Regions from separate parts of the Homo sapiens genome. Here region 1 is linked to region 2. A link means that fine-mapping ties the variant in region 2 to the expression of a gene that starts in the linked region. Tissue or cell type: whole blood. Region 2 holds a variant in brackets; the other region holds the start of a gene. All regions are shown on one strand. Distances are between the middles of the regions.

Region 1 (8,097 bases), 120 kb before region 2:
AAAAAACAAAAAAAAAGTAAAGAGAAAAAAACATGTTATTTTTAATGGCATCTGCTTGGGCAAGAAAACTTAAACATATAAATGCTAAACCATTTTCAAATGTACTAACTCTCTAATAATGATAGTAAACAGAAGTTTTCTGTTAATCTCTATGATTTCTAAAAGTCAAAACTGTACCTTCACCATAGAACTCCTGGGACAAACTCAAATATGAACCTTCTTAAGAATTCCACATTGATCTTGGTCCTCCTGCTATCATCTTTGTGACCATAAGTAAGTCAATTCACCTAAGTTTTAGTTTTCTTACCCATAAACGGTACTTCTAAACTAATTAATATTTAAATTCTTTATCAGAAGGAAACATACATCAATCCCCAATGTAAATTGCAGATCCATTAATAATATTTAAGATCACTATATTCTTTCTTATCATTCTTCCAAACATAAAAACACTACTTGTCTGTATATAAAGAGGAGGAGTAGAAAGAGAAGATTGTTAAAAGGAACAGAAACTAGGTTGGTTTTGTTAACTAGGTTCCCCCTCTGAAACCACGAGACAGTATTAGCATCTCCTGAAATTTATTCAATACCCTGTTTTAAAAACAGAATGGTTGGTTTCCCCATGTCAAGACATACCCTTTCATAAAATGGGACAAGTCAATTTCTAGGAATGTATCTTTCAGCAGCTGTAATACTAACAACTAAAGGGGCGGGGGGGCGGCAAACAAAAGAGCATAACATAGATGACATGAGTCTACTGTCTAGGGAGAAAGAAAAGCTCTTCCCTATATGATGCCTTCAGAAAAGAGAGCAACAATGGGCTCTGTACCCGCCAGCTTCAGGAGGCACATGCCTGTAGGCAAATTATCTTATGTGTTGGGAATTTACATGGTAAGATGCTTTCTATGTTTTACAGCATATGTTTTCCTTATGAATGACTTCATTCACCCCCTTCATTAATTCAACAGCTATTTACTGAGCACTTACTTTATGCAAACCATAAAGCTAAAAAAAAAAAGTTATGAGCTTACAATTAGAATATTCAAGTAAGCCCTGACATGTACCTTACAGTACTTTAACCCCTCAGAATATTTTCAAGTCAAACAGTAAACTAAACAATATACTGTAGATGTTAAGCTAAAACGCACTTGTTAAGTTTCATTCCTTTGATGAAGTGGCATGTAGTAAAGGGGGGAAGGGATAAACTAAAGGTGAAAGAGTAATTAGCTAGGTCTCTTAGGTGATGTGGGGTACAAAGGTCTCCTTCCTCTAGAGAAAATGATAACATTGGATTACAAACACATTGGTAAACATCACAAAATGCTAAAGTTGGAAAGAAAAAACATAATTTCATACAAACGTTTTGTTTTATATGTGAGACACTTGAGACTTGGAAGTGATATGATGGCCCAGGTCATACGGCCAAATGTAGTCCCAGAACTAGAACCCAGGTCACTGGGGGCATGCTTAACAGTCCTTTGTGTATTGCAGTTTCCATGATGTGTCCTCATTGCTATCAGAACTGAAATGATGGCAGAATACACAAAGCAATGGACTGGACATCAGAAGATCCAAGTTCTAGTCTTGCAAATGCCACTAAATGAGATGTAAATCCATGGAAAACTCCCACTGCTTGTCTAAACCTCAGTTTCCTCATCTGTAAAATGTAAACAGTAATTTACAGTGAGACTATGCAGACCACAATAAATGCAGAAGAACTCTGCCATTTAAAAAACCACCTTATATAAGTACAGAGCAGGCACCTGGTTATGACAGAAAACCTAACTGTGATTCTAATACCAGCACTTGTTACCTTGATAAATCTCTGAATCTGTGAGCCTCATGTTCCTTCTGTGTTTACATGGTAAAAAGTCTTTGCCCTGCCTCCCTCAGAAATGTTTGGAATTAGGTGAGAACACTCAAAAGAATTTACAAATTGCAAGACACTGATGCAAATGTAAGGTGTTATTATTAAATCTCTCTAGTCTTAACGTGGACAAAAATGTAATGTGGTTCTATCATTTAGTGCTTCACAGTTTTCCTTCTCAGGTAAGATGTCATCATACATCAGTCTCAAACTCACCAGCTTTCTCATCAGTCCTCATAAGTCTCTGCCCACAGGACCATATCAGAACCACCGTTTCCCTCCGCTCAGAGATCACACATGAAACTCACTCAACCTCCCACTGGTTTACACTTGGCCGATTAAGGTTTTTTCCCAGCGTCTCCTTTCAGCTGGGAATGCTCTAGCAAAGCTTCCATGAACACTACCCTACTTCATCACATTAGAGTCCTAATGAAACCCATCCTTACTTCATCACATTAGAGTCCTAATGAAACCAATCCTTTCGCCTTTCTCCACTCCAACAGCTGCAGAACGCTTCAGTCTCTTCGCAGAACAGGGGAGAAGTCTCTGGCTGAATGTGCTTCATTAGAGGGACAAAAGGGGTTCCCCAAACCGAGACTCAGAAGTACTGACACAGAGACCGCTTCTTCCTTGCACGAGATTAACACATTCTGAGGTCCTACCGGTCCCTTAAGGATCATTCCCCTTAAAGCTAGGGCCTCCTGCATCTGAGAATGTCACAGAGAGGTAGTGATGATAGTGGGTGTTATTTCTGATCTGTAACACGCTCCCTTTAAAAAAGCATCAGAGTAACTAGGATTGCCTTGTTCGGAGCCCTGATTTCAGTAGATTCGATGAAAGAATTAATCAATCTACCCAAATAACTTCTCCGGAATAGGTTTCTACTCAGCCACGCTGGGCACCAGACAAGAGAGCTGGGGGTTGGGGGGGATAAGAAATGACAACACGCTCATCTGCATAGATGCCAGATAAGCAGACATTTGTTTTCTTCTGTTCTGGCGACTCCTGGCACCGGCATAGTAAATCAAACCCGGGCATTCTCCCTCCCCAGTGCCCCTACACTCCCAGCCCCTGCCCCAGATGTTGAAGCGTCACGTTGACCAGGCTGGGGGAGAAAGCCTGGGAAACGCAGAAGTCTGTTGCTGCATTTAGACTGGAACCATACCGCACCTGTTCAATCCGGCACCAGCGCCAGAAATGAGCAGAACACCAACTCGCAAGCCCCTCTTGAGATACCAGGGCGCCTAACAAGTTCACCGCTGTTTCGTACCGGGGGAGGGTGGTGGGAGACCTTTCCTTCCGCTGCCAAACTCTGCAGGTTCCCCGGAAAAGGGGAGAGTACTCCTATTTAAGTGAACCCAGAGTGATCTCCGAGTGTCACTGCGGCCCCGGGGATCCGGGTGACGAGCGGGTGGGTGTCCGTTGGGAGCGCGCAGCTGTGGCCCCCGCGGAACGAAGGTCCGCTTCGGTGGCCACGGGCGCCCTCTCCACGTCACCCCCAGCACAACGCAGACAGGCAAAGTGGAAGGGTAGAGAGACCGACGGGTTTCAGCAGAGATGCAGAGCCCCTAAGCGCAAGCCCCTCAGAAGGGTCTAGTGGGAAGGGGCCGGGGACGCACAGGAAACTTACCTCACCCGGGCAGCATTCGGGTGCCTCCGCTACCAAGACCAGTTGCGCCACAGTCTGCAAGTTATCGGGACGTTGTCGCTTCCCCACAGCGAAGGGAGAGCAGTGCAGGCGAGGGGCGGGAGGGGCGGGAGGGGCGGGAGGGCGGAGGGGGCGGCGGGCGGGGCCGGGGCCGGGGGCAACGCTGAGGGCGGGCAGGTGCCGGGGCTGGAGCCGCGGGGCCAAACTCGCTCCGGACGCGCCTTGGCGGGGGCGCGCGGCTACGAGTGTGCAGTGCGCGCGCGCCGCGGCGAGTGTGTGTGTCCCCGCTTTCCCCTTCCTTCCCCGCCGGTCCTCCGGCCAGACGGAGCAGCGAGCGGCCGCCAAAGCCCAGCAGCTCCGAGCGGCTCCACTGCCGGGCGCAGCCTCGCCGCGGCGCGTTCGGGGACCGGGAACCGGGGACCGAGAGGAGCAGCAGCGGCGCCCGCCGGGCTCGGGCGCGGGTTCCCGCTTGGTGCGCGCCGGAGTCGGAGCGAGGCGCAGAGAGAGCCGGCTGCGCGGCGGCTGCCGCGGCTGGGGAGGCTGCAGGCCCCGCCTGCCGGCCGCCCAGGCTCTTCCCCTTTTCTCTCCACCCACTTGCCCCATCCCCGCAAGCCCTGCAGCGAAGGCAGACCGGTTTGCAGCACCTGCCGCAACAGCGGCCGGAGCTTCAGCCGCAGTGGGCTGGGCGTCTCAGCCGGTGTGTGGGGACCGGGCGCCTGTCCCGCCGCCGCTGGCCCAGACTGAGAGCGGGGTTGGGGTGGGCCCCTGGAATTGGCGGGTGCCTCCAAGACTCCAGGGGTTCCCGGCCGTTCTCAGCGTCTTGAAGCCCTGCGAAACAGGGCTGTGGGGATAGGGCGTCCCCTTTCCCCAGGCCACAGAACTCAGCTACGCCTGGTCGCCCGCCTGCTAGACTCTGCCTGAGGCGGCGAAGCCGGCACTTGAGCGCAGGCGCCCCCTTCACGAGGAAGGGACAGGCCAGGATTCCAAGGCGTTGGTTGCTCCCATTCTAAGGACAGCAGGTGTTCCCAGCAAGTAAGACCTACCCAACAGGTAGGGGTAGGCTGGCGAGGAGGTCCTAGGAGAGAGAAGCTGGGGGATGTCATGGGAAAGCGCTGTGACGGGGCTGAGGGCCAATTCCTACTGATAGCGCTTAGTGGGCTGGGGGCACTTGCAACGTCACCTGATGTCAGTCTAGCTGCGAAGAGGGTAGGGGTCAGATCTAAAGGACTCCTTTGGGAAAATGCTATCATGAAAGCTAAAGCTAAATTCACTTAATAGGAACCAAAAGGTAGCGGATCCTTCGCGGCTGAATTGAAGCAAATGGTATTTTTCAGCCTCATCACTTCCTTCCACTTACCCTTCTTTACCAAAAACAACGCCGGTGGAAAACGTGGGATACATTCTGTCTGGGGAATAACAACATTTCATGATCCTTATCTTCAGAGATCTCTGGCTTCCAGTTTCTGTTTGAAGGATACTCCCTTAGTTCTCTGCAAATGAACACCTCTTTTCAGTTTTGTAATCTCTTTGTTTCTCTCACCCCCCACCTTGAGTGAGTCTGCTATGGTTTAATATCAGCCTTGAATCAAGTGCAATAATTTCTTGATAACAGAAGTATCTATTTTTTTTTAGCTTTACTGAGCCATAATTGACAAATAAAACAAATATCTGTTATTCTTCAGCTGTTTTCCCAGCCTGCTTCTTGCAGATGTGGCTGGCCATTACTGAGAGATTTAAGGTATGGTTTGTTTAGAACCCTGTGACTTGGGTCTGGTTTTCTCCTGGCATCCTAGACGCTTCACAGCTCAGAGCAGGAGGAACATACATCTAGTCCAGCCCTCCCGCTTTACAGATGAGGAAACTAAGGTCTCAAGACATTAAGTAACCCAAGGACCAGAACACAGTTTCCCTGACTCTCAATCCCTGAACAATAACTAGCAGAAATATTGTATTAACAAAGTTCAAGATGGGGTGGATAGACCAGTGGTGGAGGACAGAAGAACCGATCAAAGAACCGTTCATCTGACTGGTACGAATCACTGTATAGGGGGCAGCATCATACCGCTGTAACTAGCAGGCTAGTTTGGAATCTGGGAATGGTAATCCCAGTCTCTCCTTTTCCTGCTTCTCAGACTTCAGCTATGAAATCCAGAGTGGAAAATGAATTTGCCTCCCAGGGAGGCGGTGGTAAGTGAAAGTGCAAAGTCAGTTTCTGGTAATGCAGGGGAGATGAAGACAGGTAAAGCCAAACATTGGATCAAAAGTGATCACGCATTACGTATAAATGTCCAAATACATGTATCCATACACATGACCCTTTTCCCATTAATGAGCCTGGTATTGAGCCACTTCTGTAAAGCCCAAAAGCAAACAGCCTTAGGTTTTCAGAGAGAAGTGTCCAACCAGACTGCCCACTGGCTATTTAGAGAGCTAACTTTATGAAGCAGGATTCTAAGGAACTCTACCAAGAGCCTTACGATTGCATTATTACTGTGAATTGATTAATGGAATGAATGACCATGTAGTATGAGACCTGGTATTTCTTCCTGATTCTATCTCCAACTCTATCAACAGGGATTTAGGAAAGTCATCCTGTATTGGAAATAATACAACAACATCAATATCATGAGCAATAGTGACTTGGCCAGAAATTCTGGAAACCTATTTAAAAATCAGAAAATATTCATCTAATTATTTTGCTTAATTTTAAATGTAATTTTTTCAATTGATTCCTGACCTCAGTCCAAAACTTTAATAATGCTATTGAATACTCCTCTAACTATGAGAAACATGCATGGGTTCCTAGTAGTACATTTGATAGTATTAGTGGCCCCCCAATAAATGACCTCCTTTTTTCTCCAAGGTCTTTCCCTCTAACCTTGTAGTCCACTCCTATTCTGGGCCCAACCGTATGATTTACTTTGACCAACAAGACAGTAGCCGGCTTGATGTAAATGAACGCTGGAAAAATGTTTACACATTTCTGTTTCCAGTCTTGGAATTCTGACATCACCAGAATAAGCCTGCTGGAAGATGAAAGACCCTGTAGAGCAGAGCTGAGTCATAACAGCTGAGGCATCCTTGACCAGTCAGCCCTCACTTGACTGTGGAGGCACAAGCAAGTCTGAATGAGATTGGCTAGGCTTGGTCCAGATCACCAGAACCACCCTCCCAACTCATAGATTCATGAGAAACAATAAATGGTTGCTGTTTAAAGCCACTGTTTCAGATATTGATTGCTGCTTAACAAACAATCCCAAAACTTAGTTGCCAAAATCATCAGTCATTTACTATTTTTCATGATTCAGTGGGTCAACTAAGCCTAGCTGAGTATTGCCTAAGGTCACTCATGGTTTTTTTGTTTGTTTTTGTTGTTGTTGTTGTTTGTTTGCTTGCTTTTGAGACAGGGTCTTGCTGTGTCACACAGGCTGGAACAGGCTGGAGTGCAATGGCATGATTACAGTTTACTGCAGCCTTGATCTCCTGGACTCAAGCAATCCTCCCACCTCCGCCTCCCAAGTAGCTGGGACCACAGGCATGCACCCCAACGCCTAGCTAATTGTTTTTATTTTTTTGTGTGGAGATAAGGTCTCACTGTGTTGCCCAGGATGGTCTCAAACTCCTAGCTCAAGCAACCTTCCAACCTCAACCCCTAAAGTGCTGGTATTACAGGTATGAGCCACTGTGCCTGGCCTAGGTCACTCATTTGACGGCATTCAACTGGCCACTGGCAGCCGGACTGAATTGGAAGGTTCAAGAAGGCCTCATTCACATATCAGGCACCTCAGTTCTCCTCCACATGACCTCTCTCTGTCCATCCAGCTGGCTTGGGCTTCCTCCCAGCAAGGTGGTTAGACTTCTTCTATGGCATCTTGCTTCCAAGAGGGAGGAATAGAAACTGCCAATTCTCTTAAGGGTTGAGTTTGGAAGTTCTAGAATGTTATTTCTGCTTCAGTCTATTGGTCAAAGCAAGTCACAAGGCCAGTCAGATTCAAGAGGAGGGGAAATAGACTCTGCCTTCTGACTTGAGGGGTACTGTGTTATGTTCAGGAATAAAAGAGCTGATAGCAGCCATTTTTTGAAGACTACTTCATCCACTACGTGTTTGGGTGCTTTGTGACACCACATCAGATCATCGATATATTCTTCTTAGCTACGCCACTTTGAACCAGTTACACATTCTTTCTGGACCTTTCTATGAAATGCCGGAGGTTGCATTTCTCTAAGTTGCTAATGCACATTTAGCATTTTTTTTTTTTTTTGGTGATGTCTCAAGAGCAACTGAAGTCCAATAAATATTCAGAGGGAACTTGAGGAACATTGGTGAGCTATGGATAGTTCCACCTGTTCATCTGTCCTTTATTTTTTTTCCAATGAGAAAAAAACAGGAATCCAGATGAAAGGCATGCATTGCATTCGTTGACATTGAAGAGTAGAGAAGTAGAGCCAGCATCCTTCCCAAATCTCTAGGGACCATCCTCCTGCCACATTGCCCTCTCTTTCTAGAAACTTCATGTCTAAGCAGACAAGAAAGGCTAAACGCTTAGCTGATGCCCCTGTATAACTTGAGACACTAATTTCA
Region 2 (8,107 bases):
GTATTGATGGAATGTATCTCAAAATAATAAGAGCTATTTATGACAAACCCACAGCCAATATCATACTGAATGGGCAAAAGCTGGAAGCATTCCCTTTGAAAACTGGCACAAGAAAAGGTTGTCCTTTCTCACTCCTATTCAACATAGTATTGAAAGTTCTGGCCAAGGCAATCAGGCAAGAGAAAGAGATAAAGGTATTCAGATAGAAAGAGAGGAAGTCAAGTTGTCTCTGTTTGCAGATGACATGACTGTATATTTAGAAAAACTCATTGTCTCAGCCCAAAATCTCCTTAAGCTGATAAGCAACTTCAGCAAAGTCTCAGGATACAAAATCTATGTGCAAAAATTACAAGCATTCCTATACACCAATAATAGACAGAGAGCCAAATCACGAGTGAACTCCCATTCACAATTGCTACAAAGAGAATAAAATACCTAGGAATACAACTTACTAGGGATGTGAAGGACCTCTTCAAGGAGAACTACAAACCACTGCTCAGGCAAACAAGAGAGGACACAAACAGATGGAAAAACATTCCATGCTCATGGATAAGAAGCGTCAATATAGTGAAAATGGCCATACTGCCCAAAGTAATTTATAGATTCAATGCTAACCCCATCAAGCTACCATTGACTTTCTTCACAGAATTTGAAAAAACTACTTTAAATTTCAAATGGAACCAAAAAAGAGCCCGTATAGCCAAGACAATTCTAAGCAAAAAGAACAAAGCTGGAGGTATCATGCTGCCTGACTTCAAACTATACTACAAGGCTACAGTAACCAAAACAGCATGGTACTGGTACTAAAACAGAGATATAGACAAATGGAACAGAACAGAGGCCTCAGAAATAATGCCACACATCTACAACTATCTGATCTTTGACAGACCTGACAAAAATAAGCAATGGGGAAAGGATTCCATATTCAATACATGGTGTTGGGAAAACTGGCTACCCATATGCAGAAAACTGAAACTGGACCACTTCCTTACACCTCATACAAAAATTAACTCAAGATGGATTAAAGACTTAAATGTAAGACCTAAAACCATGAAAACCCTAGAAGAAAACCTAGGCAATACCATTCAGGACATAGGCATAAGCAAAGACTTCATGACTAAAACACCAAAAGCAATAGCAACAAAAGCCAAAATTGACAAATGGGATCTAATTAAACTAAAGAGCTTTTGCACAGAAAAAAAAAAAAATCTATCATCAGAGTGAACAGGCAACCTACAGAATGGAAGAAAATTTTTGTAATCTATCCATCTGACAAAGGGCTAATATCCAGAATCTACAAAGAATTTAAACAAATTTACAAGAAAACAAACAAACAACCCCATCAAAAAGTGGGCAAAGGATATGAACAGACACTTCTCAAAAGAAGACATTTATATGGCCAACAAATATATGAAAAAAAGCTCATCATCACTGGTCATTAGAGAAATGCAAGTCAAAACCACAATGAGATACCATCTCACACCAGTTATAATGGTGATCACTAAAAAGTCAGGAAACAACAGATGCTGGAGAGGATGTGGAGAAATAGGAATGCTTTTACACTGTTGGTGGGAGTGTAAATTAGTTCAACCATTGTGGAAGACAGTGAGGCTATTCTTCAAGGATCTAGAACTGGAAATACCATTTGACCCAGCAATCCCATTACTGGGTACATACCCAAAGGAGTATGAATCATTCTATTATAAAGACACATGCACACGTATGTTTATTGCAGCACTATTCACAATAACAAAGACTTGAAACCGACCCAAATGCCCATTCATGATAGACTGGATAAAGAAAATGTGGCACATATATACCATGGAATACTATGCAGCCATAAAAAAGGATGAGTTCATGTCCTTTGCAGGGACATGGATGAAGCTGGAAACCATCATTCTCAGGAAACTAACATAGGAACAGAAAACCAAACACTGCATGTTCTCACTCATAAATGGGAGCTGAACAATCAGAACACATGGCCACATCCTTCCCACAGGGAAGGGAACATCACACACTGGGGCCTGTCAGGCGGTGGGGGGCTAGGGGAGGGATAGCATTAGGAGAAATACCTAATGTAGATGACAGGTTGATGTGTCCAGAAAACCACCATGACATGTATATACCTATGTAACAAACCTGCACGTTCTGCACATGTATCCCAGAACTTAAAGTATTAAAAAAAAAGTTTTCTGACTATACACCCTAAGCTTTAGATAAATCTAAATTTCCTTAAAAGTTTGAAGGGCCTATGAATACAGAATAGTTTCTTACTAACGCAGCAGTGAATATACATTTATTATTTGGAAAATGGCAGAGAATCACAACTCTTATCTACCTCAACTGTTTTTAAACATTCATAGAAATTTAATCTGTTAATAATTGAGTTTGGGAAGGCTGGAGCACTTAGAAAAATGGACTATTTTAGTGTCACAGGTGAGACAAAGAACAGGCTGAGAAGCTCAAGAATCGCTGCATTCCTCTTACTGATTACAGAAAAACAAGAGATTCAGTGCTGCTAAAATTGGCTTCAGAATCATTTTCACGACAACCCATACATCATCCCAGAATTTCCTGAAAGAACATCTTTAGGTTATGATTGAAGTCAAGTATGATTCTTTCAAAGGTTTCCCTTTAAGAAATTTTATTAGTAAAAGTAAGGTTAAGAAACATATGTAAATATACAGTATATGTATAGTACATAGTATAGTATACATACATACATATAGTATATGTTTTGTTACTATATATACACTATATATATGTAGTAACAAAAGGAGTGTACTCTGATTCTCACCCATAATGTTTCTATAGATGTATCATTTTGGCTTAGATGAAAGCGAGCAATCAAAAAGATGAATCACTCTATCTCTTCCTTAAAAATAACTCTTTAAAGTGCTAATAAATGCTTATTTAATAAGTCTGTATATACATATATAAAATGGGAGAATAATATATTGAAGGAATTTGTGTTTATCTTATTAACGTGGAATGGTAAAAATTCTTTTAGTGTATGATAATAGTGTAAAAAAGTTCCAAGACTGGGTCTTTTTTAATACCAAAAAAAGATATAAAGTGCATGTGTTGGCAAACTTAAAAAAAAATTACACATGTAATACATGGTTGGGTAGATAAAATGTGAAAATACAGATAAACCAAATGGAGGGAAAAATGAGAAATATTTAATATTACTTATAATTGTACCATCCAGGAATAATCATTTTAGGATATATCTGTCAGACTTTTAAAAATGTATGTATACACACATATATTACACAAATGGGGTCATGCTGTTTTAGAACCTATTTTTTTAAACTTAGCAACATATTGCGACTGTCCATCTATGTCAATGTACTCCTCAGCATCATTTAAAGGAGTGGTCCCCAACATTTTTGGCACCAGGGACTGGTTTCATAGAAGACAATTTCTCCAGGGATGATGTGGGGGATGGTTTTGGAATGATTCAAGTGCATTACATTTATTGCACACTTTGTTTCTCTTATTATTACATTGTAAAATATAATGAAATAATTATACGACTCACCATAATTTAGAATTCGTGGGAGCCCTGAGCTTGTTTTCCTGCAACTAGACCGTGTCATCGGCGGTGGGGCGGGGGTGGGGGGGTGGGTGACGGGAGACAGTGACAGATCATCAGGCATTAGTTAGATTCTCATAAAGAGCACGCAACCGAGATCCCTTGCATGCGCAGTTCACAATGGGGTTTGCACTTCTATGAGAATCTAACATCACTACTGATATAACAGGAGGTGGAGCTCAGGTGGCAATGCCAGCAATGGGGAGCGGCTGTAAATACAGATGAAGCTTCGCTCGCTCGCCCACCACTCATCTCCTGTGTGTAGCTCTGTTCCTAAAAGGCCACGGACCCATACCGGTCTGCAGCCCGAGGGTTGGGGACCCCTGAAAAATGATCGCTTATTATTCCATGTTGAAGTACATCTTAAACCTTCTCCAATCCCCCACTACTGTCTATATAACAACCTGAAGTGTATCCATTCAAGGAATGTGTTCTTGGCCACAAAAACAGGGTGCTTGAAAAACAAATCCCAGCAGAATCATTCTTGTCCTTACGTTAATCACTACAGGGCTATTTTCAGAGCACTCCAGTGGAGCATACCGCAGTCTTCCAAAAGGGTCTTTAGGTGGTGCTATTGGATGGAACGGTTCCTTCGGAAGAGAGATGATTCATTTGCTTGGGGGTGGGGGGTGGGGGCACATCAACCCCGACTTGATTCCTCCTGTTATCTTTGGATATTCTGTATTAACTCCAATTCCCTCAAAAAGAAGTGGCAAGGATCGATCTTTAGCAGTTGTTCGTGACCTACATGCATTCTTGAAACAAGGCACACTTTAATAGGTTTAATGTTTCCTGCAAACTGTTGTGGATAGACTGAGCAGAACAAAATGCCTTTTCTGCTGGGTAAAGAGTACCTGGCACCCCCTCCCTGCCCCCCAATCCCCCCACCTCCCGCCAAAGTCACCTGCTTACGTCAGACCAGCCCTGATGCGATGGAAATGCTGAACTGAAGTGTGCTCCCATGGTTTGAAGAGCACATTTTTCACTGGCATCATGCACACAGGACAAAGCATGTCTCTTAGATGAAAGCATCTTTAAAATGACATAAACAAATACAAATTGGAATCTCAGAATGCAGTTTAAGGACCTCACTGCCCCCCTCTAGTGGTCATGTCGAGTTTCATCGGGTCTCTTGACCACAGACCGGGTCCTGTCCTAGGAATTCTGGCGCC[C/T]TCTTGTGGAGGGCAGGAGGAGGTCTTTGTAGACCGGCAAAGACCAGCGGGGCCTGCGTGAAAGATGCTAAAGACGAATTACCTCCTCTCCCTCAAAGATTCCCTAAAAGCAGAATCGAGTCAATTCTCATTCATTCTTTTAGGGCTGTATGTCTTTTAAAAATGCATTGCATTCTTTGCTGCCTGCTTGGAGTACAATGACCGACATTAACCATTTTCTCAGAGATTCAGATTTTTCCTTTTAAAAAATTGGCTCCGGCCCCATGAAAAACAGCTGTAAATGCTCAGAAGCTGCTGAGATCTGATCACAGTTCTACTTTTTTTTCCACTATGAAGCCTGCATGCGAACTCCCTGCAGCCTGCAATGCTTTCTGGGTTTTCATTTCTGTTTCCATTTTCACCTTTTCCCTCATTGTCTTGCTGCCAGTCTCTAACACCACTCCTGACCTCTTCCTTCCTTCTAACCTGCTGTGGGATCAGAAGTGAGGTAACAAAGCTTGCTATAATTCTAATTTATCAACAGAATAAACAGACCCCCGTCAATACTGGAAATGCTCTCCCCTTTGCAAAATACGAAATGTCTTTTCTAAATACACGCATGCCTTTTAGTGCCTATGTAATCCTTATCCAGTGAGTGGGAAAGAGTTAAAAGAATGAAAGTGTTAAAAAGAAATTTCTCTAGGACGGGCAGCTGATCCTGTGAGCGGGGAGCTTTGGAGGCAGCCCTGGTTTCTTTCTTTCTTTCTTTCTTTCTTTCTTTCTTTCTTTCTTTCTTTCTTTCTTTCTTTCTTTCTTTCTTTCTTCCTTCTTCCTTCCTTCTTTCTTTCTTTCTTTCTTTCTTTCTTTCTTTCTTTCTTTCTTTCTTTCTTTCTTTCTTTCTTTCCTTCTTTCTTTCTTTCCTTTCTTTCCTTTCTTTTCTTTTTTTTTGAGACGGAGTCTCACTCTTGTTGCCCAGGCTGGAGTGCGGTGGTGCGATCTTGGCTCACTACCACCTCCGCCTCCTGGGCTCAAACGATTCTCCTGCCTGTGCCTCCGGGGTAGCTGGGATTACAGGCGTGCACCACCACGCCCAGCTAATTTTTGTATTTTTAGTAGAGACAAGGTTTCCTATGTTGGCCAGGTTGGTCTCAAACTCCTGGCCTCATGTGATCCGCCCGCCTAGGCCTCCCAAAGTGCTGGGATTACAGGCGTGAGCCACCGTCCCCTGCCTGATTTCATCTTTGCCTCCTTGGCCTGGTTTCTGCTCCCTGGGCTGGAAGCGCTGTCCCCTGGTGGTGGGGAGGGCCGTGTGCTACATAGGACTGAGGTTTCAGAAAAAAAGTTCTGCAGGTGTGGATAAACAGAATGCTAAGCGGATATTGCCCAGGACAGCATAAGTGGAGGAGAATCTCAACCAGAGTCAAGGTTGTGTATGTCTGTAACCAAGGGTGCAAATGTCAAGGTGAGAAGTGGTAATGCGGCACCTGGAGATCGCGGCGGGTGATCCAGGACAGGGCAGTGGGAGTTAGATAGAATGGTCATGTTTTTTTTCCTAATAAGCTATTTATTTACTTTTGGCAAATAAAAATTGCATACCTTTACAGTATACAACATGATGTCTTAATGTATGTATATATTGTGGTATAATTAAATAAGTGGTTTAACATATTCATCACCCCCACATAGCTATTTTTTTGTGGTGAGAATATTTAAAATCTATTCTCTTAGCCATTTTCAAGTATGCAATGCATTGTTATTAATTATAGTCACCATGCTGTATAATAGATCTCCATAACCTATTCCTCCAGTCTAACTGAAACTTTGTACCCCTCTCAACTATTCTTGACCTCTGGCAACCACCATTCTACTCTACGCTTCTGTGAGTTTGACTTTTTGAGAGTCCATACACAAGGGAGATCAAGAGTGGTCCTATTTTAATGTGGTGCTGGCTTTGTTGCATGGAAATAGGCTGTTACTTGGGCAGAGACAGTGGGATGGGGGATATTTGTAACAGAAAAAGTTCTCAGATTGAGATGTTTTGTTCCTTAAGGAAATCATCTTCAGACAGGGCTCTCCTGTAGTGTTAAATGGAATCCTACAAAACACCAGTGTTCCATGAGTTGTCAGTAGGTGGTCTATAAAAATTATTTTCTATATTCAGGTAACTTTTGGCAATTACACACCATATGTGCTGAAAAGCTTGTTAACCAGCGCAGACCCATACTCTGCCCTTCTTCTCCCTGGACCCCCTGCCAGGTCACCTTGTTCTGGTTCCATCTCTTGATCAAAGGCTGTAACTTCAGTCAGGCTGACTTCTCTCTGGAGGGGTTTCTGGTACCCTGCTGGTGCTAGTGCTGGGGCGTTGCACTCCTCTTTGTGATTTCCCTATATCCTGCCCATACCTTTATAAACAATATTTTTACAAAACTATTCTCGAATTACCCAAAGTGAGTATGCCATCTCCTGGCTGACACACCATATGTTTCATTAGAGAAACGTGATGCCCAGTAGCATTTTAAAATACATTAATCATATTGGTTAATTTGTTCATAGTGGCCTCTTCTACTGGAACACAATCACAGTGCCTGGTGCATAGAAGGTGCTTGTCTTAGATGGGGTTTTCTTAGGAGCAGACACTTAACCAAAAATGTGGGTGCATATGATTTATTAAGGAAGTGCTTCCTGGAGAAACTGCTAAGGGAGTGGGGAGGCAGGGTGGAGTAGAGGAAGAAGCCAAGCAATTGAGCAATGCCAGGAGAAAGTCCCAGTCTCAGCCTGATCCCATGGGGCACACTGAGGCATAGCTGGTTTTTTTTGTTGTTGTTGTTTATTTGTTTTTTGACATGCAGTCTCGCTCTGTTGTCCAGGCTGGAGTGCAGTGGCCTGATCTCGGCTCACTGCAACCTCCACCTCCCGGGTTCAAGCAATTGTCCCACCTCAGCCTCCTGGGTAGCTGGGATTATAGGCACCCGCCATCATGTCCAACTAATTTTTGTATTTTTGTAGAGACGGGGTTTCACCGTGTTGGCCAGGCTGGTCTCGAACTCCTGACCTCATGTGATTTACCTGCCTTGACCTCCCAAAATGCTGGGAATACAGGCATGAGCCACTGTACCCGGCCTTAGCTGGCATTTTGAATGTCCCCTCCCACAACATCCGTCCATCATTGGTGGCAGAGACCAGGGACCCTAGGGTGGGTCATAAACTCCCAGGCACTTCAACTCTCTAAATGGACAAAGTAGCTTCAGTAGCCACAGTCAAATCTCTGAAAGAGGGCAAAGCTGCAAGTAGTTAGCTTCAGAGCCCACAGAAGCTGGGGTGTGGGCACAGAGAACCAAGGGGGAGTGGGATCTGGGAA

The links. PIP is the estimated chance that this variant, and not a neighbour inherited with it, causes the effect.
Region 1: PIP5K1B starts here. The variant in region 2 is fine-mapped to the expression of PIP5K1B in whole blood (TOPMed, PIP 0.97).

Annotation. Positions count from the first base shown.
Region 1 is chr9:68,701,163-68,709,259 of GRCh38, reverse strand. PIP5K1B (phosphatidylinositol-4-phosphate 5-kinase type 1 beta) reads right to left here and starts at 4,020. Exons shown (of 16, transcript NM_003558.4): 1 at 3,498-4,020. RefSeq lists enhancers at 2,203-2,352, 2,803-2,892, 3,581-4,506 and a silencer at 3,643-4,162.
Region 2 is chr9:68,581,261-68,589,367 of GRCh38, reverse strand. All of the region lies in intron 2 of TMEM252-DT (TMEM252 divergent transcript), which reads right to left. Among named protein-coding and RNA genes, the nearest start is that of LINC01506, 39 kb to the right of the region's middle. RefSeq lists an enhancer at 4,625-4,714. The variant C/T (reference allele first, on the strand shown) is at 4,771.